Linked DNA regions of Homo sapiens. The protein of the gene in region 7 purifies or fractionates together with the protein of the main gene of each other region. This does not show direct contact. Each region holds a gene or a part of one and is shown on either strand. Other genes may lie near its edges. The genes, in order: KCTD15, TOR1AIP1, MTERF4, WDHD1, PSMG1, NSUN4 and CA10.

What was found.
Region 1: the proteins of CA10 (region 7) and KCTD15 purify together in Homo sapiens (affinity purification with mass spectrometry; 3 studies listed by BioGRID and IntAct, with this or other methods). This does not show direct contact.
Region 2: the proteins of CA10 (region 7) and TOR1AIP1 purify together in Homo sapiens (affinity purification with mass spectrometry; 4 studies listed by BioGRID and IntAct, with this or other methods). This does not show direct contact.
Region 3: the proteins of CA10 (region 7) and MTERF4 purify together in Homo sapiens (affinity purification with mass spectrometry; 4 studies listed by BioGRID and IntAct, with this or other methods). This does not show direct contact.
Region 4: the proteins of CA10 (region 7) and WDHD1 purify together in Homo sapiens (affinity purification with mass spectrometry; 4 studies listed by BioGRID and IntAct, with this or other methods). This does not show direct contact.
Region 5: the proteins of CA10 (region 7) and PSMG1 purify together in Homo sapiens (affinity purification with mass spectrometry; 4 studies listed by BioGRID and IntAct, with this or other methods). This does not show direct contact.
Region 6: the proteins of CA10 (region 7) and NSUN4 purify together in Homo sapiens (affinity purification with mass spectrometry; 4 studies listed by BioGRID and IntAct, with this or other methods). This does not show direct contact.

Annotation. Positions count from the first base shown.
Region 1 is NC_000019.10:33,806,870-33,810,369, forward strand, and holds part of KCTD15 (BTB/POZ domain-containing protein KCTD15), read left to right. Parts: coding exon 1-138; intron 139-3,500. UniProt on the Homo sapiens protein: During embryonic development, it is involved in neural crest formation. Inhibits AP2 transcriptional activity by interaction with its activation domain.
Region 2 is NC_000001.11:179,899,285-179,902,784, forward strand, and holds part of TOR1AIP1 (torsin-1A-interacting protein 1), read left to right. Parts: intron 1-841; coding exon 842-883; intron 884-977; exon of another isoform or gene 978-1,280; intron 1,281-2,017; coding exon 2,018-2,104; intron 2,105-3,500. UniProt on the Homo sapiens protein: Required for nuclear membrane integrity. Induces TOR1A and TOR1B ATPase activity and is required for their location on the nuclear membrane. Binds to A- and B-type lamins. Possible role in membrane attachment and assembly of the nuclear lamina.
Region 3 is NC_000002.12:241,099,488-241,103,546, forward strand, and holds the start of MTERF4 (transcription termination factor 4, mitochondrial), read right to left. Parts: upstream 2,801-4,059; 5' UTR 2,787-2,800; coding exon 2,766-2,786; intron 408-2,765; coding exon 1-407. UniProt on the Homo sapiens protein: Regulator of mitochondrial ribosome biogenesis and translation. Binds to mitochondrial ribosomal RNAs 16S, 12S and 7S and targets NSUN4 RNA methyltransferase to the mitochondrial large ribosomal subunit (39S).
Region 4 is NC_000014.9:54,992,600-54,996,099, reverse strand, and holds part of WDHD1 (WD repeat and HMG-box DNA-binding protein 1), read left to right. Parts: intron 1-286; coding exon 287-497; intron 498-3,500. UniProt on the Homo sapiens protein: Core replisome component that acts as a replication initiation factor. Binds directly to the CMG complex and functions as a hub to recruit additional proteins to the replication fork.
Region 5 is NC_000021.9:39,180,652-39,184,915, reverse strand, and holds the start of PSMG1 (proteasome assembly chaperone 1), read left to right. Parts: upstream 1-1,464; 5' UTR 1,465-1,530; coding exon 1,531-1,664; exon of another isoform or gene 1,665-1,852; intron 1,853-3,014; exon of another isoform or gene 3,015-3,037; coding exon 3,038-3,144; intron 3,145-4,264. UniProt on the Homo sapiens protein: Chaperone protein which promotes assembly of the 20S proteasome as part of a heterodimer with PSMG2.
Region 6 is NC_000001.11:46,354,307-46,357,806, forward strand, and holds part of NSUN4 (5-cytosine rRNA methyltransferase NSUN4), read left to right. Parts: intron 1-3,269; exon of another isoform or gene 3,270-3,353; intron 3,354-3,500. UniProt on the Homo sapiens protein: Mitochondrial RNA cytosine C(5)-methyltransferase that methylates cytosine to 5-methylcytosine (m5C) in various RNAs, such as rRNAs, mRNAs and some long non-coding RNAs (lncRNAs).
Region 7 is NC_000017.11:52,155,915-52,159,966, reverse strand, and holds the start of CA10 (carbonic anhydrase-related protein 10 precursor), read left to right. Parts: upstream 1-1,252; 5' UTR 1,253-2,180; coding exon 2,181-2,241; intron 2,242-4,052. UniProt on the Homo sapiens protein: Does not have a catalytic activity.

The DNA.
Region 1 (3,500 bases), on a different chromosome or scaffold from region 7:
CGCCTCTTCAATGGCACTGAACCCATCGTCCTGGACAGTTTGAAGCAACATTATTTCATTGACCGGGATGGGGAGATTTTCCGCTACGTCCTGAGCTTCCTGCGGACGTCCAAGCTGCTGCTTCCGGATGACTTTAAGGTAAGTCCATGGCTGGTGGCCCCCCTGCACTGCCTGTGTGATGGCATTACACAGGGGACGCTGTGACTTAATAAGTGGACCCCTGGTTGTCATGGTAACCATAAAAAGTTAAACGATGAAGCCGAGGGCTAAATCAGTTTTTCTAAACTAATTTTGTTTTCTCACATTTTTAGCTTATTTATCAGGGTATATAACAACAATCAAGCTGCAGAACGTATCCCAGCTGAACATTTGTCGTGTTTAAGGATGGGCGCGTGCCAGCGTTATAGTAGTTAGAGGTTCATAAATCTGTTCCATCGGCTGGGTGCAGTGGTTCATGCCTGTAATCCCAGCACTTTGGGAGGCCAAGGTGGGTGGATCACTTGAGGTCAGGAGTTCAAGACCAACTTGGCCAACTTGATGAAACCCCATCTCTACTGAAAATGCAAAAATTAGGCCTGGAGCGGTGGCTCACGCCTGTAATCCCAGCACTTTGGGAGGCCGAGGCGGGTGGATCACCAGGTCAGGAGTTTGAGACCAGCCTGGCCAAGATGGTGAAACACCGTCTCTGCTAAAAATAGAAAAATTAGCCAGGCGTGGTGGCAGGCCTGTAATCCCAGCTACTCGGGAGGCTGAGACAGGAGAACCACTTGAACCCAGGAGGCAGAGGTTACAGTGGGCCGAGATTGCGCCACTGCACTCTAGCCTGGGCGACAGAGCAAGACTCCGTCTCAAAAAAGAGAAAGAAAAGGACGGCTGTAATTAGACTTCAAAAAATAAAGTATAAAAAGAAAAATGCAAAAATTAGCCGGGCATGGTGACAGGTGCCTGTAATACCAGCCACTTGGGAAGCTGAGGCAGGAGAATCTCTTGAACCCAGGAGGTGGAGGCGGAGGTTGCAGTGAGCCGAGATCACGTCACTGCACTCCAGCCTGGATGACGGAGCAAGACTCTGTCTCAAAAAAAAAAAAAAATCTGTTCTGTGTTGGGCAATTTGCAGGGAGAAAAGCCCTGATGACCAAACAGATACCCTTTAAACAAAAGGTTAACCCCCAGGTCTCCGGGTGAGCCCGTCAGGGCAGGTGACCTGGTTCCCTGGGTCATGCCTCAGTGCTGAGCCCCTCCCACATGTCAGGGACTCTGGGAGGAAGGAAACTCAGGCCTGGGGTACACTGGCATGTATTAATACTAGCAAATGTCTGTCCTTCCTTCCTTCATTCCTTCCTCTATCCAGAGGACCAGTAGCCCTGGGGCCTTGTCTTTCATCCAGCTCAGTTACTGAGTGCCAGCCTCTGAATTCAGGCTGAAAACAGTGAAACACACACACTAGGACCTGCCCCACAACACTTAACAGTCTAGCGGGCAGACAGATACTGAACTTGAAGTCCATGTGACCTGGGCTGGGCGGGTTTGAAAGAAATGATGTTCATCTGGGTGGTGAAGGCAGAACGGGGCCAAACAGGTGTGAGGGCCTTGGTGCAGGGGATGGGGGTGGCAGATGGCTTGATGCATTCCAGAACTGGAAAGAAGGTGTCAAGCCTGGAGCTTTATGGACTGGGAGGGGAAGGTCAGGAAAGGAGGCTGCTGTTTGATGTCAGGACCTTGGTGGGTGGCCCAGTGCCTGGCATTTAACTCTGAATGCAGTGGAAGGGGTGTGTGCAGGGGAAGGGCAGTCAGATCTGCAAATTGGGAAGATCTCTCTGGCTGTTGGGTGGGGAAGAAGGCAGAGAGGGGTGGGGGTGGGTGCAGTGAGGCAATTATGGATGAGGCCCCTTCCCCAGGCCAAGGGAGGCTGGGTGGAGGCTTTGGATGGACCAGGATGGAGATAGAGAAGATGGAGCAAGGTGGCACATCAGACTTCTGTTTAGTACAGGCACAGTGGCTCACTTGGTCATCCCAGCACTTTGGGAGGCCGAATGGGGAGGATCCTTTGAGGCCTGGAGTTCAAGACCAGCCTGGACAACATAGCAAGATGCTGTCTATACAAATTTGTTTTTTAATTAAAAAAGGCCGGGTGCGGTGGCTCACACCTGTAATTCTAGCGCTTTGGGAGGCCGATTTAGGTGGATCACCTGAGGTCAGGAGTTCGAGACCAGCCTGACCAATATGGTGAAACCCCATCTCTCTTAAAAATACAAAAATGAGCCGGGCGTGGTGGTGTGCACCTGTAGTCCCAGCTACTCGGGAGACTGAGACAGGAGAATTGCTTGAACCCAGGAGGTGGATGTTGCAGTGAGCTGAGGTCACACCACTGCACTCCAGCCTGGGCAACAGAGCAAGGTTTCATAAGTAAATAAATAAACTTTACTTTTAAAGTTTTTTAAGAGTAATTTATTTACTTTTCATAAGTAAATAAATAAACAAGCAAGCAAGCTGCAAAAGCACGTGGCTGTGGTAGTGTAAAGGGCCTCTTGCAGGTGCCCCGGGACTTGTGGCTTGAATTCTGAGTTGGTAAGTTGAGGCCCGGGGTGGACCAGGCTGTGGGAGTGGGGTTTCTGCCCCTGCATGGGAGAGCTGGTGGGGCATCAGATGGAGAAATCCTGGGCCATGACAAAAGATGGGGTTGTCTGTCATGCAGTTGTCATTTAAAATCTCAGGAGAATGGCCAGGAGAGGTGGCTCACACCTGTAATCCCAGTGCTTTGGGAGGCCAAGCAGGAGGATCATTTGATCCCAGGAATTCCAGACCAGCCTGGACCTTGTGTCTACAAATAATTATTATTGTTATTATTATTATTATCCTGGCATGATGGCTCATGCCTGTAGTCTCAGCTGCTCGGGAGGCTGAGTCAGGAGGATCCCTTGAGCCTGGGAGTTCAAGGCTGCAGTGAGCTATGATCACATCACTGCACTCCAGTCTGGGCTACAGAATGAGACCCTGTCTAAAGAAAATAAAATAAAAATCTCAGGAGCAAGTGAGAGTGGAGAGAGCAGAGGCCCAGGATAGAGCCCTGAGGAGCCCTTGCATGGGGCAGGAGAGGCAGGATGGGCCACTGACCCATGACAGGCCCAGAGGTCAGGGTTAGAATCTAGGCCTCCCTCCAGGCGGCCAGCAGGTGGAAGGGACTTAGGGCCTGTAGGTCAGGGGGCTGGGCTTCCTTGCCTCTTCCTCAGGCATGAGTCATGGGGACCTATGGGACCTTGGCCATTCCCAGTGGGGTGGGTGTGTGTGAGCGTGTATAGTGTGCATATGTGGCCCAGGGCATGGGGCCAGTATCAGCGCCTGAGGGACAGTCTGTGCGAGGCTGCTTAGCCCAGAAGGGGGCTGCGTGGCAGGGGGCGGGCTTCCCCTCCCTGGACACTTTATCACACTCTGCCTGTTTGGGCAGGGGCTGGACCAGGCACTTGGCACATCTTGCATCCTTTGATCCTCACTTTCATTCT
Region 2 (3,500 bases), on a different chromosome or scaffold from region 7:
TAGCCCATGTAAAAATACTATGTTCCAAGTTTATTTGATGTGTTTTGCTTGTTTATTTTTGTTCAAATTCTCTTTTGCACTGGAAAACAGTGACATACATGGACCCGCCAGAACTAGAAGTTTCTTTACCTTTCTTCCTCTTTGGATACACCAATGCTCGAAAGAACTGGGTTATCAGTCCAGTTAGTGTAGTTGGTTTTTAAAGGGAGTATAGGGGATTTGGCAAATAAGAGAATGAGAATATAGCAAACCTATACACACTAGAATATTTGTCAATGTAGAATTTAATGTTTTTTTTGCATACAAAGGTTACATTTTAGAGTAAAAATAGACCTGTGACTGAAGGAAAATTAAACACTTCATTTCCTTTTTCTGTTTGAGACAGAGTCTTGCTCTGTCGCCCAGGCTGGTATACAGTGGCGCGATCTCGGCTCACTGCAACCTCTGCTTCCCAGGTTCAAACTATTCTCCTGCCTCAGCCTCCCGAGTAGCTGGGATTACAGGCACACACCACCACTCCTGGCTGATTTTTGTATTTTTAGTGGAGACAGGGTTTCACCATGTTGACCAGGCTGGTCTCAAACTCCTGACCTCAAGTGATCCACCCACCTCGGCCTCCCAAAGTGCCGGGATTATAGGCGTGAGCCACTGCACCCGGCCAATTCTTAGTGATTTAACAGAAAAAGAATTTATTTAATGTGTCCTCATGTTCATTTTCCTAAACGAGATGCTCTTTTATTTATTCCTAAGCTTTAACTTTTTTCCTAAGCTTTTGTTTATTCCTAAGCTTTAACTTTTGATGTTATATGTTTAATATTTGATGTATGCTTTTTTCTTCTAGAAGCCACCAGTGTCCAACAGAAGGTCAATTTCTCTGAAGAAGGTATTTTACTTGTAAATATCATATAATATATACTTTAAGTCTTTTTCTTTACATTAGAAGCCATTCTGATAGATATTTAAGAAGTGGGAACAGAGCCGGGGACTGTGGCACATGCCTGTAGTCTCAGCTACTCGGGAGGCTGAGGCAGGAAGATCACTTAAGTCCAGGAGTTCTGGGCTGTCTGTAGTGCACTATGCCGATCAGGTGTCTGCACTAAGTTTGGCTTCAATATGGTGACCTCCCGGGAGCGGGGGACCACCATGTTGCCTAAAGAGGGGTGAATCCATTCAGTTCAGAAACGGACCAGGTCAAAACTCCCGTGCTGATCAGTAGTGGGATTGCAACTGTGAATGGCCACTGCACTCCAGCCTGGGCAACCTAGTGAGAGCCCATCTCTTAAAAAAAAAAAAAACAAAAAGAAGTTAGAACAGAAAATAATGTGTTTTTCTTCAAGAAAAAAAATTCATGCTTATCTGAACTGTTAACTGGGCAGAAATAATAGGACAGATAGAATGAGTGATGACAGCCTTACATTTTAAGCATCTTTTGTCTATTTGGGTTCATTTTAAGCAAAGATAATATTTTCTATTATGGTATTAAAGTAATCAGTTTTCCAAATTCTCATAACCAGTTTATGTTTGAAAAGTACAGGAATAAAATTTAGTTTTTGTTGAAGCTCAGCATAATCTGAGGGTGGTCACCTGCATAATAGAATGTTTGTGTGCAGGTGTGTGTACACTACCCCTCTACCACCAACACACACACACAAATACACATCTGAATTTAACTACACACTAATTATATGTAGTTTTCCTCCCCATAAACTTTTTCCACTGTTTAACGCTCATCTGTTCATTTTTGACTCTACATTAAAGCCTTATAGTTTTTTAGATATTACTCTGAATATTTGTTTAGGAAAGTATTATGTGCCCCAGAGGACACAAATTGAGATAAATTTTAGTTCCTTTGGAACTTTGGGATTCAAAATAATAAGCATGATAAACAAACAGTAGTTCTATATCTGATAACTTAAAAGGCTTCTTTTAATGTTAAATTATTTGCTTGGTTTTTTTAAATTCAGATCTTCTGAGCATTAAAATAGACTATATTAGTATATTGTTTACTTCTCTTTAGGAGAAACTGAAGAAGATGATCAAGACAGCTCTCACAGCAGTGTCACTACTGTTAAGGCCAGATCCAGGGATTCTGATGAATCTGGAGGTAATATTGCTTTATATACATATGACTCTTCTCATAGAACTATCTTTGGTATTCCATGAATTTGCTTTTTAAAAAAAACTTTCAAATTTTTATTAATACTTTATAAAAAGTCGTGAATTTTTCTTTAAATATTTATTAAAATTACTGATTTCGTGTTCATCCGATTAATACTATGTCATGATATCTAAACAAATCACTTTTAGCTTTTTTTGATATTTGTGGAAAATAAGATATTTTTGTGCTCAAAAGAAGAGTTACTTGTTGTTTTTTGAATTTTATAGAGAAACTAATCACATTGCCATTGGGACTGACAACACTATCTGGAGTGTTACTTTTAGGAAGTTTTCATTTAATTATATAACTAGCTTTATCTCTGGATTTTCAAATTCAAACCAAATTATTAATTAACAAGTTCTGATTGTTTATGTGAATTTAAGTTTATTCAATGAAAGAGTTGACTAAAGAGAGAAAAATACCAGTTTGAGGCTTAAGATAATGTTGAACAAGACCCTCCCCCCCAAAAAAGATAATGCTAAACAAATTTGTAAACTCTGTAAATAATGAGTAATTTTATACTTTAGTCCTGCACTTTCCCTTCACCACCTCCTTAAAATTTCTGTAATTCCAATTCTTTTTTTTTTTTTTTTTTTTTTTTAAGGCAGAGTCTCACTCTGTCACCCATGCTGGAGTGCAGTGGCGCAATGTCGGCTCACTGCAGCCTCTGCCTCCTGGGTTCAAGTGATTCTCCTGCCTCAGCCCCCCAAGCAGGTGGGATTACAGGTGCGCACCACCACATCTGGCTAATTTTTGTATTTTTAATAGAGATGAGATTTCACCATGTTGGCCAGGCTGGTCTTAAACTCCTGACCTCAGGTGATCCACCTGCCTCTGCCTCCCAAAGTGCTGAGATTACAGGCCTGAGCCACGACGCCTGACCTGTAATTCCTATTCTTTACCTCATCATTTCACTTTAAAAATAAGTACATAAGCTGGTTTGGTTTTTGTTTTTATTTTTTTGAGACAGGATCTCTCTCTGTCACCCAGGTTTGAGTGCAGTGATGCGATCATGGCTCACTGCAGCCTCGACCTCCCAGGCTTAAGCAATTCTCCTGCCTCAGCCTCCCAAAGTGCTGAGATTATAGGTGTGGGCCACCGTGCCTGGCATTATACGCTGGTTGTTGGGCATTTGGTATTCTGTGTGTTTCCCACCCTTCCTCATTTTTCCTATGAATTCTTGATACAGAAATGGAGATTTGTAACACGCTGGTAGTGTCTAGCTAGAATTTCTGGGTTCCATTCCTTCACTTTTTAGCTGTTTGCCTTTAGAGAGTTATTTAACTTCTGTGTTCCTCAGTCTTGTCATCTGGATTGTTGTGGGGGTTAAATTAATTCATAT
Region 3 (4,059 bases), on a different chromosome or scaffold from region 7:
ACACACACAGGCTCTGGATTCAGACCCAAGAGAATAAATTCTGAAATGATGTCCAGCAACTGTTGAAGACTGGCACCTCGCCGTACACTGAGCAATTCATTAATATGGGCATTGCTGAAACCCATGTCCAGGAGGGAACTCATGACCCTCTCTAGCTCCAAGGACCCTTGTACCACAGGAGTCCCCTGCTTCTCAAGGAGGCACTGAACAAGATTCCTCCTGCACTCTGGTTCCTGCACATAGTTATTGGATCTAACACAAGATAACTCCTCAATGACCCCTCCATTGGAGGCTGTAGTCAGTTTGCGCAACAAAGAAGCTGTCGTCCTTCTCTGTTCTCCAAGATGAGGAGTCTGCCTAGCCATACAGGCCCAGGTGAGGGGGATCAGGCGGTGCCAATCAAGGACCTGTAAGACACAGGACCAAAAGACAATTAATTCCTCACTATTCCAGTGTAATGGACACCATAAGACTTCTGAGCCAGAGTACTTACTGCCTTGGTTCCACACAAACATACAATTTTTATAAGCAATCTGCAAAATCCTATCTGAACTTAAGCCTACAGAGAAGGAAGCTCACAAAGAACAGGGTATTTCAAGGCCACAGAGATGGGAGTCAAGCAGGTACAATATTGTTAGCTTTTGCAGCTTTAAGGATGGGAGCAGGGACATGGAGGAAGAGGGAAAAACTATTTCTAGGCCACCTGGTCATGTGTGCCAGAAAAGTCTGGACCTCAGACTACTTTCCAGATTCATGTTCTTAAATTCATTCCACGAGAAGAATCTTGTGGGATACAGAGTTGGCCCTTGAACAACAAGGGTTTGAACTGCTTGGATCCACTTATATGTGGATTTTCTTCCGCCTCTGCCACCCTTGAGACACCAAGACCAAACTCTCCTTCACCTCCTCTTCAGCCTAAAGACCTTATGAGGATCTACTTCCTCTTAATGAATAGTAAATACATTTTCTCTTAGGATTTTCTTTTTGTTTTTTGAGACGGGGGTCTCACTCTGTTGCCCAGGCTGGAGTGCAGTGGTGCAATCATGGCTCACTGCAGCCTTGACTTCCCCAGGCTGAGGTAATCCTCCCACCTCAGCCTTCTGAGTAGCTGGGACTACAGGTGCACACTACACCCTGCTAATTTTTGTATTTTTTGTAGAGACGGGGTTTTGCCCTTATGATTTTCTGAATAACGTTTTCTTTTCTCTAGCTTACTTTAAGAATACAGAATGCAATATATATATATACAAGATATGTGTTAACTGTTTATGTTGTCGGTAAGGCTTCCAGTCATGAGTAGGCTATTAGTAGTTGAGTTTTGGAGGAGTCAAACGTTATACACTGATTTTCAACTGGTGTGGGGGCGGTCTGGTGCCCCTAACCCCTGTGTTGTTCAAGGGTCACAGTAATTAGTCAACTTGCATACACAATTCCAGTTGACCTCAAAAGTCTTCAGTGGTTCAGGCTGGTGCTTAACAAACTATGCACAAATCATCCAGGCACTCTAAGCCAGCAGTCTTCAACGTTTTTGGCACCAGGGACTGGCTTCATGGAAGACAATTTTTCCACAGACTGGTGAGGGGTTTCAGGATGATTCAAGCATATTACATTTGTTGTGCACTTTATTTCTGTTATTTTCACGTTGTAATATAAGATGAAATAATTATACAACTCACCATAATGTAGAATCACTGGGAGCCCTGAGCTTGTTTTCCTACAACCAGGAGGTGCCATCTGGGGTTGATGGGAAACAGTGACAGATCATCGGGCATCAGATTCTCATAAGGAGCGCAACCTGGACCCCTCAAAGGCGCAGTTCACAATAGGGTTCGCGCTCCAGTGAGAATCTAAGGCGGCTGGTCTGACAGGAGGCGGAGCTCAGGCGGTAATGCCAGCGAAGGGAGCGGCTGTAAATACAGTCTGGCTGGCTCACTTGCCGCTCACCTCCTGCTGTGCAGCCTGGTTCCTAATAGGCAAGGGACGGTACCGGGGGTTGGGGAACCCCTGCTCTAAAACCTTCACATCGGTCCCAACCCCTTCTCCAGCGTCATCGATTGTCGCCCTGGGGCCACCCTGCCAAGCCCAAGCTCTGGCTGCTCTCCAGCCTCCCCTGTCCAGATGCTCCCTCCGCCAGGAACACCTGGCAGTCGCTGGGGTCAGCGGGCGCGGCCCGTGGAACTGGGCTCAAGCCTAAAGACCTCTATGCTGATTCCGCTTCCTCTTAATGAAAAGTACATGTTATCTTCCTTGTGAAGTTCAAACTCTTGTTCAACAGTCAACTCAGGCCGGGCGCGGTGGCTCACGCCTGTAATCCCAGCACTTTGGGAGTTCGAGGCGGGTGGATCACCTGAGGCCAGAAGTTACAGACCAGACTGGCCAACACGGTGAAACCCCGTCTCTACTAAAAATACAAAAATTAGCCAGGCATGGTGGCGGGCGCCTGTAATCCCAGCTACTTGGGAGGCTGAAGCAGTAGAATTGCTTGAACCCGGGAGGCGGAGGTTGCAGTGAGCCGAGATCGCGCCATTGCACTCCAGCCTGGAGACAGAGCGAGACTTTGTCTCAAAAAAAAAAAATGTCAACTCTATATCCCACAATAATTGAGCAGAGCCACGGGTCCAGGATGCCAAAACCAGGTCAGCGTGCACGGACCTCCGGGAGGGCTCCACGACCTGGCCGTGAAACACTCGGCGGCCGCGGTTCCTCTGCGTCGCTGCCCGCCCGCCTGCGACCCGGAGAAGCCCGCGCGCCCAGCTCGAGCTTACCTGACGGCCGAACGCAGCCATAGCGCGGAGAAGATGGCAGCAGTTACGGCGCCGGAAGCAGCGGTCCTCCCCCGTCCTTCACTTCCGGCCCCCGGTCCGTCACCGACGCCGTTCCCAGCGCCAGCGCGGTGTGGTGGATCGTGATTCCGGCCCGGAGCTGTGCTGAGCGTTCACGGCCCCGCGGGGCTCAGGTGTCCCGGGGCCGCCCCTTAGAAAGCCGGAAGGCCGGAGTCGCGCCCGTCACCGTGCCGCCGCCTCTGCCGCGGCCTCAGCCTTCGGGGGCCTCGGTGTCCGGTTGTTCCCGTTGCACTGCCGTGTCCCGTTTCGCAGAGCTCTGGGCCGCGTGAACGAATGGGTCGTCCTGGCCCATACTTGTGTTTCAGATGACCTGAGAATTCCTCTCAAGAGTACAGGTAGAGGGGAACTGGTTCCTTGCTTCGGGAACTTCACCCGAGAGCGCAGAAATCCTTCCCGAGGCAGGAAAAATGGATTCCGTTCCATGTAGAGATATTTAAGATTTTATTGTGTAAAAATCTGTATTCAGCGTGAACACCGGGGCCACCTACGCACAAAAAGAAGTCTTTACCGCTTTTCTTTCTTTTTACTCTCAGCCAGTGGAAGATGAGAATTTGCCGTTTTTAAAAGACCCAAGTAAAATGACAGGAATTACGGCACATTTCCCTTTATAAGCAAGAGCCTTCCCAACTTCGAGGTCTGGTTCCCTCTTAGGATGAAATATAGTAAAGTTTTAGCCCAATGTGTATTCATTCTTAAATTTCCTCTCTCGACCTAAGAGCGTAGGCATCTTTCACAAGGTGATGCTTGTGAAGAATAAAAAGGTGTGCTTTCTCAGCTGCCTAAATCCTGCCACCAAAGCCTTAATTTATAAGCATTTCTTGTTTTATCTACTTCATTCTGGACTGACATAAAGGATTTGATTCTTGCATGGGCACACATTTACATATCTGCTTTGCGCCAGGCATGGAGTGGGGTGCCAAACAATTTATGTAAAACTGTCTTTTGACAAAAGGATTATGTCAAAGAAAAGGAAGGTTCTAATCCGTGTAGAAACTAAAGAATTGGTTGCTTTGGCAGAGTGCAGTGGCCCACGCCTGTAATCCCAGCACTGTGAGAGGCTGAGGTGGGGGGGATTGCCTGGGCTCAGGAGTTCAAGACCAACCTGAGCAACATAGGAAAATCCTGTCTCTACAAAAAATAAAAAATTAGCCGGGAGTAGTGGCGTGCACCTGTAGTCCCAGCTACTCAGGAGCCTGAAGTGGGAGGATCACTTGAG
Region 4 (3,500 bases), on a different chromosome or scaffold from region 7:
AATAAAATCTTATTTTATATTTTGGCATATACAGTATTTGTTTACATGTCAGTCCCTATACTCCCATCCCATCCCCAGACTACAAGGCATTTGAAATAAGGACTGGGTCTTATTGTGTAAATATAAATACAATTCTCATAAATACATTTACTAATTATTCTTATCTGTTCAGTGAGTTTGCTGCTTGGTAGAATTTATAGGTGCATATTAAAAGTTTACCTTTTTAGTAATTGAGTTTTTCTAAATCATTCACTTTTACTTTATAATTTGTATTAATTTGTTCAAGGTATCTAGCAGAGTGGAAAAGGATTATAATGATCTTTTTGATGGAGATGATATGAGTAATGCTGGTGATTTTCTAAATGACAATGCAGTTGAGATCCCTTCTTTTTCAAAAGGGATTATAAATGATGATGAGGATGATGAAGACCTCATGATGGCTTCAGGTCGTCCTAGACAGCGAAGTCACATCCTAGAAGATGATGAAAACTCAGTTGGTAAGAATTTGACTTTGTGCATGTGATTACCCTGTTGATTAATATTTTAGATTTTTTATTAACACTATTAAAGTCATTATTGAATTTGTAGAATGTAGCTAAGTGGTGCTTAGAGGAAATTTTATAGCATTAAATGACTTTGTTAAAAAAGGTTTCAAATCTATAATCCAAGCTTCTGCTATGGCAGACTAGAAAAAGAGAAAACTAAACCCCAAGCAAATGGAAGGAAATAATACAGAGCAAAATTCAATAAAATTGACAACAGAAAACCTATAGAGAAAGTCAATGAGACCAAAAGCTGGTTCTTTGACAAGATCAATAAGGCCGGGCACGGTGGCTCACGTCTATAATCCCAGCACTTTGGGAGGCTGAAATGGGCAGATCACTTGAGGTCAGGAGTTCAAGACCAGCCTGGCCAACATGGTAAAACCCTGTCTCTACAAAAATACAAAAATTAGCTGGGTGTGGTGGCACGTGCCTGTAATCCCAGCTACTCAGGAGACTGAGGCAGGAAACTCACTTGAACCCAGGAGGTGGAGGTTGCAGTGAGCCGAGATCGCGTCAACTGCATGCCAGCATGGGCAACAGAGCAAGACTCCATCTCCAAAGAAAAGAAAAGATCAATAAAATTAATAAATATCTATCGTGGTTGATCAATAAAGAGAAGACACAAATTACTAACATAGAGAATGAAAGAGAGGTGGGCCATCACTATAGATCTGTAGATTTGTGCTATCCAATATATAGTAGCCACTAGCCACATGTAGCTGTTGAGCACTTGAAATGTGGTTAGTTCAAACTGAGATATGTTATGAGTGCAACCGGATTTTTTTTTTTTTTTTGAGGCGGAGTCTCACTCTGTCACCCAGGCTGGAGTGCGGTGGTGTGATTTTGGCTCACTGCAACCTCCGCCTCCTGGATTCAAGTGATTCTTGTGCCTCAGCCTCCTGAGTAGCTGGGATTACAGGCATGCGCCACCACGCCTGGCTAATTTTTGTATTTTTAGTAGAGATGGGGTTTCACCATGGAGTGCAACCAGATTTTGAAGACAATATGAAAAAAAGAATGTAAAAATCTTGGGAAATTTTTTATATTGAGTACATGTTGAAATGATAATATGTATTTTAAATGCACTATATTATTAAGATTATGGCTGTTTCTTTTTACTCTTTAAACTTTAGAAATATTAGAAAATTTAAAATTACAGCTGTAACTCACATTATATGTCTGTATGGCAGTGCTACTATTAATATCAAAGGCATAATGGCAATATTATGAATAACTTTGTGCCCATAAATTTAACAACTTAAATGAAATAGACGAATTTTCTGAAAGACACAAAGTACCACTGCTAACTCAAGAAGTAATAGATAACCTGAATAGTATTGTATCTATTAAAGAAATTGAGATTGTAATTTAAAATCTTCAAATAGAGTGCTTATTGTAACAACTTACATGCTACAATAACACTTGAACATTATCAAGTAAAATGAAGAAATTGAGATTGTAATTGAAAATCTTCAAATAGAGTGCTTATTGTAACAACTTACATGCTACAATAACACTTGAACATTATCAAGTAAAATGCCAATGTGCAGTGCTATGTTGTGCTTTTTAAAGTCATATAGAGTTTATAGAACAGCAGTCCTCAAATGTTTTGGTCTCAGTAGCCTTTATACTCTAAAAAATTTTGAGGACCCTTCCGAGAGCATTTATTTATACAGAGTTACGGCTATCGTCATTTACATATTAGAAATTAAAATTCAGAAATTTAAAAATATTTATTCACTTAAAAATAACATTAATAAACTCATGTAAACATGAATAGTACTTTTTTATGAAAAACAAAAAAAATTAGTGAGAAGAGTGGCATTGCAATCTTTGTAATGTCTATCATAGAGGATAGCTGGATTCTCTCATCTACTTTTCTGGATTAAGTCTATTGCTATACATTGTTTTTGTTTGAAGTGTATAAAGAAAATTTGGCCTCACATAAATATGTAATTTGAAAAGGGAGAAGTATTTTAAGAAATCTTTTAATAGCACATTCAATTAATTGTGGATATTCTTTGATGTTGCACCAAGACTCAGAAGATGATCGTTTCCTAAAGATTACTTGCAAAGTGTAATCTGAAAACTTCAGTGAACTCTTACGGCTCTGTTATGTTAAGATTCATTGGTCTGGCTGGGAATGGTGGCTCTCACCTGTAATCCCAGCACTTTGGGAGGCCCAGGCAGGAGGATTGCTTGAGGCCAGGAGTTCAAGACCAGCCAGGGCAACATAGTGAGACCTCCTCTCTACAAAAAAACTTTAAAAATTAGCCAGGTGTGGTGACGTGTGCCTGTAATCCCACCTACTTGGGAGGCTGAGGTAGGAGGATCTCTTGAGCCCGAGAGGTCGAGGCTGCAGTGAGCCATGATTGCAACAGTGGGCTCCAGGCAGGGTAACAGAACGAGACCCTGTCTCAGAAAAAAACAAAATAAAATCAAAAAATTCATTGGTCTGACTTGAATGTTGAATGGATTTTTTAAAATCATGTTTAATTTTGTAACATATGAATTGATAATATTGGTTCACTGAAGTTTATAGATCCTCTTTATACTGACACTTTTTATTATCTAATATAAATTATTTGTTTTTGTTTTTAATTAATTATATGTTGTTTTTAATTAATTAATTTTTGTTTTTAGAGATAGCATCTTGCTCTGTCACCTAGGCTGGAGTGCAGTGGTATCATCACACCTCACTGTAACCTTGAACTCCTGGGCTTAAGCAGTTCTCCCACTCAGCCTTCCGGGTAGCTAGGACTACAGATGCATGCCACCATGCCCATCTAATTTTTTATTTTTTGTAGAGATGGAATCTTGCTTTGTTGCCCAGGCTGGTCTTGAAATCCTGGCCTCAAGTGATATTCCCTCCCCAGCCTCCCAAAGTGCTGCAATTACAAGCGTGAGTCACAGCACCTGGCTGTAAATTATATCTGCTAGTGTTGTTACCAATCT
Region 5 (4,264 bases), on a different chromosome or scaffold from region 7:
GGACTAAGACAAGTGGTGCCCAAACAACCTTTTTATTCTGCAGTTCCATCATCATAATAGACCAGTTAACCCAGGAGTCCTAATGTTTTAAAACATCATTGTGGTGATCTTGTTTATTCTATCTCACTAAGGATATCCAGTTTCCTAAGCTCTTACTGGCTAGCAATTTCGTCTTAATTTTATTGCTAAATGTTCAAATTTTGCTTCCAAACTCACTTTATTTTTGCAGATGTGTACATCTGCTAAGTACTAATTTTATGTAAATGATTTTGTTGATTATCTTTCCACATCTTAAAATGTTTCTAACAGCTTTGAGATTTTATCTCAACAGGCTCTCTCTGACCCCAAAGTAGTACTTACCTTCGTGACTACTGACAAAGTCACAAAATGCAGGCGATGTCATGTATTTCGGTACAACTAAATCTAGGAAACGGTTTTTTCATTGCATTACTGCATATTTTCATTTTCATTTAAATTATGTCCCCTTTTTCTCTTGCTTGAAACAGTGCTCCTCGAACTTTGTCTTCCAGCACATTTTAAAGAGAACCAATTAAAGAACAATCACACATTCTGCTTATTAAAGGCTATTTAAAAAGAAACATTTTGTATTAGAAAATGGCCAACTTTAAAACACTATTTTTTACACTCATAAAAATGTTTTTTAAATCGCCTTGACAATCATCAGCTTTTGAAATGTGAATTCCTATTGCCAGAGTAAAGGTCTCGTTTTTATACCACCACGAAGCGCTGTATTTCTTGCTGCCCTTGCGTCCGCCCGTGCCCGCTGTCTGAGGGCGCGCCTGGCTACGGGGGCCCTCAGTACCACCGCGCCGCCACCTACCTGGGCAGTCGAAATTTGGAGCGGGTGCTCAGTACACTAATGCTACCCCAGTCTCTCCTAACGCAGAAGGAAAATGGAAACGGACGATGAGGGGACGGCCCCACAGCTCCCGGACGCCACGGCCAGCGGCGCTGGCTCCGCCCCTGCACCCCTGGTTCCGCTACCGCCACGAACGGAGGCCCCGCCCTCCTCTCGCCCCCTGCCCCTCTAGCCCGCAGTCCTCCCACCTCCTGGCGCCCGCAGGGCTCAAGCTGCGAATGAAAGCCTTTGGGGGCCGGACGCGGTGGCTGAGGCCTGTAATCCAAGCACTTTGGGAGGTCTAAGGAGGACGATCGCTAGAGTCCTGGAGTTCGAGACCAGTCTGGGCAACATAGCGAGACCCCCTCCCCCAATCTGTAATTTAAAAACAAAAAAGCTGCGGGGACTGCTGGCCCAGGGCATGACAGCGCGGGCGGGCGGTGTAGAGGGCGTGGCCGCGAGCTCAGGGTGTGCCTGGGAGCGAGCCCTGTGCGGGGCGGGACGTAGCGCCCGCGCGGTGGGGGTGTGGCCGCGAGCTTGGGCTGTGCGCGGAGGGCGTGGCCTGTGCGGGGCGGGACTTATTGCCCGCGCGGTGAGGGAGCGTGGTCTCGCGCAAGCCGGCGTGCGGTCCCGCGGCGCTGCAGTTGTGTCCAGCCGGTCACGGGGCGGCTATGGCGGCCACGTTCTTCGGAGAGGTGGTGAAGGCGCCGTGCCGAGCTGGGACTGAGGACGAAGAGGAGGAGGAGGAGGGGCGGAGGGAGACGCCCGAGGACAGGGAGGTGCGTCTGCAGCTGGCGCGGAAGAGGTGAGGCACCGGGATAAGGGCAGCGCGCTCACCGCAGCTGGAAGGTGCGCGGGCCTGGCAGCCGCGACGGCGCCTAAGGCCGGGGCTCCGCGGTCTTCCGAGTGGCCCCCGCGGTTGCCGCCGCTCCTTGGCTCTGCTTGGGCCCTGGGTCTCCGTGAAGCCGCGGCGTCCAGCGGCGCCAGCCCCAGGTGTGTGTGGTTCTCGCGTGGATCTGCTGGCGTTTCGTGGAGTCCAGGGTGAAGCCGCTGTGGGAGGGCTGGGTTCAAATCCGTTCTTTAAAGGCTTTCTGGAGCGTTTCTGGAGCATTTCTGGAGGCTTGGTGTCTTGCGGACTCGTGATCTTCCCGCTTGTCACACTGTCTTGGGCCGCAGCGCTCCCGCGGGCCCCACCACGTTTGTCGTGGATTGTTCACGGACACACCAATTCCCTCGAAACTTTTTAAACCTGCACCCAACACTTCAATTAGCATGATGTGTCAGTAGCCGATGAACACGCTTTAAAAAAATTGTTTCCAAACACAAAAAAGTGGGAGAAAATAGTCAAGTGAGCCCTGACCCCTACACAACCGGGTAAATTCAACAGGAAGATTTTGCCACGTTTATTTTCTCTCCCGCCACTCCTAAGCGAATTCCAGTCATCATGGCCTTTCACCTCTACATTTTTCAGAATACATCTCAAACGTTTTAGGGATTTTCTTACATATGCTATTATCACCCCTAACAACACTAATACTAATTTTCCAGTATCATTTTGTAGTCCATGCTCACTCACGTTTACCTAGTTTTTTCAAACATGACATTTTACAGTGGTCTGCGTGAATGAGAATCCTAACAGGGTCCACAGGTTACATTTAGACGTGTCACTTCATTTAGAGCAACCTCCTCTTACCCCTCCTAAGAGACAGGACTGATTGTCTTGTCCAGTGCCCCCACACTCTGAATTTGTCTGATAGCTTCGTTGTGGTGTCACTTAACGTTTGTATCACCTGCATGTCCTGTAAAATGAATGTTCATTTGGAGGCTTGGTCAGATTCTCATTCAAAGTTTTGTCGGCAAGAATGCTTCTACTAAGTGGTGCTTTCTGTTTCTTATTGCAGGCTATCCCCAGCTGTCTCACTTTTAGGGATGCTAAGATTGGTTCTTGGGTCAGGTGGACAGCCTGATCACTATTTTAGAGTTCTCCGTAAACACGTATGCAATAGTTTTATCTGTTGGTTATCATTGTCCGAGTCCATCGTTTTCTGAGGATATTAGTTATATTCTTTATAAAACTAACGTGCATTTTATTTATTGTAAATCATACATATAGTGCCCTTTTGCCATGATACTGTTTATATTGAAGTTGCTTTAGTTTCATCTTGTTTCTTGTGTTAGGGAAGTGCGGCTCCTTCGAAGACAAACAAAAACATCTTTGGAAGTTTCTTTGCTAGAAAAATATCCGTGCTCCAAGTTTATAATTGCTATAGGAAATAATGCAGTAGGTAAGTGAAAATGCAGAAGACTTAGTCATTTTGTTGAAAGAATGAAATATACTTATTTTCTTCCATCATAAAAGATTTAAAATGTTTAGTACTTTAAAAAGCCACAGTAGAGTGATTGTATTTCTGAGTAAAATCTCTCTCCTGTTCCTGTTGCATCATTTTTTTTTGTTTTGTTTTTGGTAGAGATGGTTTCTTGCTGTGTTGCCCAGGCTGGTCTTGCACTCCTGTCCTCAAGTGATCCTCCTGCCTCAGCTTCCCAAAGAGCTGGGATTACAGGTGTGAGCCACAGCACCTGGTCTGCACTATCTTTTTAATAAACTGAAAAAATCAGATTTAGGCTGGGTGCAGTGGCTCACATCTGTAACCCCAGCTCTTTGGGAGGCCGAGGCGGGAGGATCACTTGAGGCCAGGATTTGAGACCAGCCTGGGCAACATAGTGAGACCGTATCTCTACAAAAAATAAAAAAATGAAGCCAGGCATGGTGGTGCTTGCCTGTAGTCCTGGCTACTCAGGAGCCTGAGATGGGAGGATTGCTTGAGCCCAGGATTTTGAGGCTGCAGTGAGCCACGATCCTCCCACTGATCGTGCTCCAGCTTGGGTAACAAAGCAAGACCCCAACTCAGAGAAAAGCTTTAAAGAAAATGTTTTTAGCTTCAGGAACTTAAAACTCAAGGAGCTGTTTCTAGTGTGTTGAGGTATCCGGGTTTATGTTAATGTTTTTGAGTTAATAGACTCCTTTGAGAACACAAAACTCTAAAGACAGTAATAATTATCAACATGTTTAAGTACTTAAGTTTTAAGGTCCTTGCATGTATTAATTCTCTTGGTGGATTAAAGTAAAAACAGTGTAGAGTGCAGCTAGGACAATGTACATTTACAAATACACACATAGACCTTTATATTTTTAGGGTGTTCACAGGTTGTGATGAGAACATTCAGGAAACCCAGTTAAGATCCCTTCCTCTGTAAGGTACCCCTAGTGGTTGTAGAACATAGTAAGTACATGATGGCAAGTAACTATGGACTCATTTATATAAAGTTCTGCTGGCCTAAAGTTTTTCAGAAGAGTATTACCCCGTGAGCATGTGGTAGAAAGTCTGTCAACAAACCTGCCTTCTT
Region 6 (3,500 bases), on a different chromosome or scaffold from region 7:
CAGGCTGGCCTCGAACTCCTGGGCTTGAGCAGTCCTCCCACCTTGTCCTCCCAAAGTGCTGGGATTATAGGTGTGAGCCACTGTGCTGGGCCAGTCTCTTCATGTTTTTAAGTTATTTATTTTATTTTAAATGGCATACTCTAAAAATATTTGTTTAGAACACATATTTCTAAAAATATATAAAATATATAGCTGTTGTCTCTGTGTTGTCACCTGATTTACCTAATCTGTCTAGTTCTCACCATTCTGCCTCAACCACTCTAAGAAACTGAAAGAAAGACCAAGGCTTATGGAATCTTAGATAGGCTTGAGACTTGCTTTCTGCCTGTGTAGGAATCCCCTACTCATTTTTTTCTTTTTTTTTTTTGAGACAGTTTTGCTCTTGTTGCCCAGGCTGGAGTGCAGTGGCGCAATCTTGGCTCACTGCAGCCTCCGCCTCCTGGGTTCAAGCCTGGGTTCAAAGTTCGATTCTCTTGCCTCAGCCTCCCAGGCAGCTGGGATTACAGGTGTGTGCCACCACGCCTGACTAATTTTGTATTTTTTTAGTAGAGACGGGGTTTCACCATGTTGGTCAGACTGGTCTCGAACACCTGACCTCAAGTGATCCATTAGCCTCAGCCTCCCAAAGTGCTGGGATTATAGGCGTGAGCCACTGCGCCCGGCCTATTCATTTTTCTTGATATGAGAGCAGTGGAACATGATGGAGAGAGCATGACCTCTCCTGTCAGCCTAACCAGTTTCTACATTACAGGGGTGCTACTTACTAACCTTAGGCAAACTGTTGATCTTGCTGAACTTCAACCTCTTCGTTTGTGAAACAGGGTAATCCTACCACTTAGGATTATTGTGAGGATTCAGTGAGAGTATCCAGGGAAAGCACTTAGTATAGTACCTGGCGGTGAAGATTAGGCAAGCAGGACCCATTATCATTATTCAGCCTATGCTTAAACACATCCGTTGATGGGTGCACACTGAGATTCTGTTGTTGAACACTTACAATGTTAGGAAGTTCTGCCTCTTACTGCAATCTGTAGATAGCATGGTATATGGGTTAGGGCAAGGATTCTGGAGTCAGACTGCTTGGATTAGTCCTGGTTCCATTACTTATCAGCCAGAGAAGTTTCGGTGAGTTACTTAACTTTCAGTTAAGCTTCAGCTTCTTCATCTGTAAAATGAGGATAATAGTATAGTGCCTATCCCGTAGGTGAAAATTAAATAAGAATGCATTTGGCACAATGTCTGGAATATAGAAAACATTCAGTAGTAGTATAATCATCACAATCCTTACCATTATTATTATTATTTCCATTCATTGATCCTAGCTACTTATTTTAGAACAATATAGAATGAGTGACCTGCTATTTCACTTGACAGCTTTAATGTTTGAAGATGTCTTTGTTAACTTGTTTGTTGAAAAACTAGTTGTGGCCGGGCACGGTGGCTAACGACTGTAATCCCAGCACTTTGGGAGGCCAAGGTGGGTGGATCACCTGAGGTCAGGAGTTTGAGACCAGCCTGGCCAACGTGGTGAAACCCCGTCTCTACTAAAAATACAAAATTAGCCGGGTGTGGTGGCAGGCACCTGTAATCCCAGCTACTTGGGAGGCTGAGGCAGGAGAATTGCTTGAACCCGGGAGGCAGAGGTTGCAGTGAGCTGAGATCGCGCCATTGCATTCCAGCCTGGGGAACAAGAGTGAGACTTTGTCTCAAAAAAAAAAAAAAACTAGTTGTGTACAATATACTCTGTGGTAGGCAAGTGTTAAGCACTTTTATTTATTTATTTGAGACAAGGTCTTGCTCTGTTGCCCAGGCTGGAATGCAGTGGCGCAATCATGGCTCACTGCAGTCTTGACTTTCTGGGCTTAAGTGATCCTCCTACCTCAGCCTCCCAAGTAGTTGAGACTACAGGCATGTGCACCATGCCTGGCTAATTTTTTAACTTTTTGTAGAGATGAGGTCTCACTATGTTGTCCAAGCTGGTCTCGAATTCCTGAGCTCAAGTGATCCTCCTGCCTCAGCCCCCCAAAGCATTAGGATTACAGGTGTGAGCCACCGTGCCCAGCCGTGTTAAGCACTTTAGATGCAAAGAAGAATGCTACTTCAAGGCTGGGCGCGGTGGCTCACGCCTGTATTCCCAGCACTTTGGGAGGCCAAGGCGGGCGGATCACGAGGTCAGGAGATGGAGACCATCCTGGCTAACACGGTGAAACCCCGTCTCTACTAAAAATACAAAAAATTAGCCGGGTGAGATGGCGGGCGCCTGGAATCCCAGCTACTCGGGAGGCTGAGGCAGGAGAATGGCGTAAACCCTGTGGGGCAGAGCCTGCAGTGAGCCGAGATCGCGCCACTGCACTCCAGCCTGGGAGACAGCGAGATTCCGTCTCAAAAAAAAAAAAGAAGAAGAAGAAGAAGAATACTACTTCAGGGCTCTACATACTCTTGGTAACTCCATCCTTCTCCCGCTCCACTTGTCCATCAGCTGGAGAAGGGACAGGACCTCAGAGCTCTGCATGTTCATGGAAGACACTAACCCCCCCATGTCACAACTTTCTTTTTTATGTGAGCTCAAGTTTATTTCAAATAATACAATGTTTATTTGAACATGTTTCTATCTTCCCTTATAATACAATATTATACAAATTGATATTAATACAAATAATATTTGTTAGACACTTGCCCAGGGCTGAGATTCAGTGGGAGCACTATCCTGGCACGACTGGTTATTTATGACTGACATCCATGCCAGTGCCTGATGTGAAGATGCATGTGCCATATCTGATGTTGAGTGGTTTGACTACCCTCCCTAAATGTTTCCTAAGTGTAGTGCAACAGTACAACTTCCTTTTCTTTCTTCTGTGACTGAGTGAGATCAACATATTTTTTTATTTTTGAGACAGGGTTTCACTCCCATCGCCCAGGCTGGAGTGCAATGGCACAATCTCGGCTCACTGCAACCTCTGCTTCCTGGGCTCAAGCAATTCTCCCGCCTCATCCTCCCAAGTAGCTGGGAGTACAGGCATGTGCCAGCATGTCCAGCTAATTTTTTTGGTATTTTTTGTGGAGACGGGGTTTTGTCATATTGCCCAGGCTGGTCTCGAAATCCTGGGCTAAAGCCATCCGCCCGCCTTGGCCTCTCAACATGAACATTTTCCACAGTTAACACTACTGAAACAATATTAGAAATATATTAGAACCAAGATATTCAGATATATTGCCATCGATTTATAGTCCCCTTGAAATTACATAGCTCTGCTGTTTCTCTGCATTAGGGGCTCAGGAGTCCAGCGGTCCTAAGTATACCTTGCAGCCATCTTCCTAAAAGTTCTGACCATGACTGAGGACACTGAGAAGGAGTAAGGAAAGAGTCTGTAGACATTTCCTCCTTTTTGGGTTGGGGAAACTCCTACAGCTTTTTTTTTTAAAGGATTGCAGTTATACCTTTGCTCATCCCTTTATATTTAGGTCATTTCCTTTTAGGTGTATCTCTTATATGCTGCATA
Region 7 (4,052 bases):
ATTCCCTCTACGCTCCCTCCTCTTCTTCAATAACCCCAAAGAGGTAGGTTTGAGCTTTCGCAAACCACCACTGCAGCGATGGAAGCAGACAAATCTGTTGAGATTTTGTCTTTCCCCTTTCGTTCCCAGCCCTCTTAGGCAAGCAGTTCTGAGCACAGGGTTTTCTTCAATTCCCCTGCATCCACACTGCAACCGGGTGCAAGTCTTTCCTAGGTTATAGACAGCCCGCCTCCCCACGAGACCTTCTGCGGACTGGCTGCCCCTGGCCTCGGCCTGGGTGGGTGGGTGGTGCTCGCGCCGCCCCTACTTTCCCCTGGGGCCCTGGAGAGCCGCGCGCTGGGTGTGTGTGTGTGTGCGCGCGCGGGTTTGGTGGGGAAATCTCCTTCAGTGGAAGCTGCTGAGTGTCGTTGGCGGAAAGTATCCTGGAGCCCAGCAAAAGCCTCCAAAGCACTAGAGCTTCCCTAAAGAAAAGCAGAATAAAAGAAAGACAAGAAGGGAAGCCCGTTCCTCTAAAGCCCGGGTTTCCAATAGTCCCGGATCCTCCTGGAGTTGGGCGAAGGCGCAGTTGGCAGCAGCCGCTGCTGGCACCCGGACTTGGAAAGGCGGTGTTCCCCCTTTTCGGGAGGAGGGAGGCAGGGACTTGCAGGCAAGAGTTGCACCTGGTCTAGGAACCTGCAGAGAAAAGAACTCTGGGGTAAGTAGTGTTCTGGCACTGGCACGGAAAGGGGTAAAGGGTGGGGGGCATGAGAGGGACGAAATGGAGAGGGCAGGGAATGAATTATGCAAAAAAATCTCCAATATTTCGCAGCGGAGGGAGAGCACAGCACAGCACTCCCAGGATGAGTCCTGCCTGGGTCTCCCGCGCCGAACCCGCAGCACGAAGTTCTTTTTAAGAAGAGAAACTCGAAAATCCTGGAGGGTAACAGAGGCAGCCAGGGCGGGGCGGAGTGCGGAGGCGGCTGCCAGGGACTGGGGCCGAGGCGGCGGCCAAGGTGGCCTGAAGCTGTGACACCCAGCCTCCTCCTCCTCCTCCTCATGGCCGCGCTCAGCCTCACCTCCCCGCCCGGGCCTCCTGCCTCCGCCCCCGGGTGCCGGGCTGCGGAGCTGACGCTGGGACGCCCGGCGGCGGCGAGGACGCTCACCTGGCCAAGCCTCCTTCTCCTCCTCCCCCTCCCGCCCCCACCTGTCCTCCTCCTCTCTGAGTTGGGAAGCGTAGGGATCCGTAGGCGAGGAAATAACGACCCCTGCAGTTGTATTGCGGAAAATCTCGACAGCGGCGCTAGTTGCGGGCGATGGAAGCCAGGCAACTGGGGGTTCTGGGGAGTTCAGGAAAATAGCAGAGGAGCAGGAAGGGCGCGCGCGACCTGGAGAGTCTGTGTGCCCCCACCGCGCCCCAGTCCCCGGGGCCCAGCCCTTCCCCTCGGCGCCCTGGACGCACTGCCGGAACCCGGCTGAGAGGCTGCAGGCTGCGCGCGGACCTGGGGAGCAGGGAGGGTCGGCGGAGGCTGCCGGCGGCTGGCGGTTTCGGGCAATAATCCCTGCCTCTCTTTCTCTGTGTGTCTGCTGTGTCTGCTCCTTCCCCGCCCCCCGGAAGCAGGAGAAGAACTGCCCCGGAGCGCAGCAGCCACCCTCCGACCATGCCCCGGTGAGGGGGGCGGACTTCGAGGGCAACTTGCCGCGGACTGCCTGGGCTTAGCCAGCGAGCTACGCGCTCCCGGGAGCCCGGAATTGCACGGCGCAGCCCGGCGGGGGGCTATCGTCTATGTCTTCTTGGGGCGCCAGACGAATCGGGGTCTCGTTTTTGCTGGAAGAGCCCAGTGTTGGTGGCTTCAGGTGGCTGCTGCCGCCGCCGCCGCCGCCGCCGCTGCTAGTGCGGTTTCCGCCGCTGGTGCGAAGAGAAGAGACACGCGAGCGGGGAGACCTCCAAGGCAGCGAGGCATCGGACATGTGTCAGCACATCTGGGGCGCACATCCGTCGAGCCCGAGGGGAGATTTGCCGGAACAATTCAAACTGCGATATTGATCTTGGGGGTGACTGTCCCTGGCCGGCTGTCGGGTGGGAGTGCGAGTGTGCACTCGCTCGGAAGTGTGTGCGAGTGTGTATGTGTGTGTGCCGTGTCGGGCTCCCCCCTTCCCCCCGTTTTCCCGTCGAGTGATGCACTTGGAATGAGAATCAGAGGATGGAAATAGTCTGGGAGGTGCTTTTTCTTCTTCAAGCCAATTTCATCGTCTGCATATCAGGTACGGGACGCGCCGAAGTCACTGGCTGATTTGGATTATGTTGTGATGTCTGGGGTGTATGGGGTTTTATTGTATATAGCCGCGGGGCAGAGAGAGGGGTGGCGAGACCCTTTGAGTTCTGCGGGTTTGCCGCCTTCAGAATCAAAAATCTTCTCAGCCCAAGGGTGTGTGAATGTGTGTGTTTTGCGGGGGGGGGTGGTTAGGATCTGTGTGCAGTCCTAGAAGGGTGAAGGAAAAAGTGGTGGGGGATGAGAAAGAAGAGGCAGATGGGTGTTGATTTTCAACTGCTTTCCTGGCTGAGAACTCTGGCGCCGAAATCCGAGCCTTGGCAACAACCACCCCCATCCCCTGGCTTTCAAAGTTCCCAGACTCGGTGGTTCCTGGCTGGCAAAATGGACGCGGGGCCCTGCCCGGGTATCTAACCACTTTCAAGAGACTGCGGGAGGATGCGGGACTGGAGAGTACCAGCAGGGATCAGAGATATGTCCTCCATGCCTTACCCAAACACATCAGGACTGATTGTGATGCTTTGAAACCTGCTGACACACCCTCCTCTACCCCCCCAATTTTCTTGTTAAAGCACTACAGTGTCACAAATACCACTTTCTTTACATCACGGTGTTTTTTAATTCCCAGTAGCAAGGATGTGCTGGCTCAGACCTCTCAGTCTACTTGGGCCTGTCTGTGCTTTTAAGAGCAAACGGGATTTCAGGGTGTTGAGGTGAAAGAGGTTGGGCTTGTGGACACCTGTGCCTGAGTGTGTTAGGACGAGTTCTGGTTTTTGAGCACTGTCTTTGTTGATGCAGGGAATTGGGGTTGGGAGGAAGCTGGGAGGGAAAGGGGAAAGCCCCTGGACCAGCAGTATTCCCCAGTTCAGTGGCTCCTCCCATTGAAGGCACCCACCCCATTTCCCTTCACACCTGCCACTTAAGCACCCAAGGAAAAGCCCATTTGTAGTGCTCCCTTCTGCCTGCATTCTTCTGCAGAAGTGGGGACTCGGCCAACTTCCCATGAAGTCATCAGAAGAGGAGAGCAGGATATTGCCCCTTTGAGCAGCCACATTTAAGCAGCACTGGGGTGGAGAGACATGTTTCCTGCCTCTTCCTTCAGCCCTGTCAATCCCCTCCCTTTAAGCCAGACCTGATTCTGGATAGGAGAAAACAACCCTAGTTCTGCCCTCACCCTGGACTCTGTTCCAAATCCCAGTCTGGCTTCCAATTTTCTCCTCATAGGGAAGGAATGGGACTCTTATCCGAAATCATTCTGTGTGGGGCTTGGCTACCCTATTAAGAAATTTGTCTCTGTGATACATCAGTGAGATGTGTTGTGTACCTGGCAGACAAGAAAATGTGCCCTGGGGTCACCCCAACTCCTCTAGTGGGACTTCTATTATTCCATTCTGCATCTAGGAGTGAAAATTCTCAAGTGACTTGTAAAGGTTTATATCAGTCATATGTCCAGATATGAAGTGGGTGGCATCTCACAAGGCCATATTTTACATCTTTCTCTTCTACATGTCTATTTCAAACTCTCTCTCTTGTTCCAGAATATTTGACTAGTTATAAAATAGCCTTTCCTTACTTCTCCCCAGTGTCATTAATAATTTTCAAATCAGACAAGCCATCTGAGTACCTTTAAGATTTATAAAGGGTTAACATTGATTAAGGCTCTGGATTTCCTCCAGCATCCTCTCTGTCCCCAGCCCTTACCCTGAATTTCGCCAGGCAATCACCGAGGGGAACAGGCTGAGAAAGGGTCTGATCTTAGCCTCCAAAAAAAGCATTAGTGGGATACCTGTCACAGCTATATTT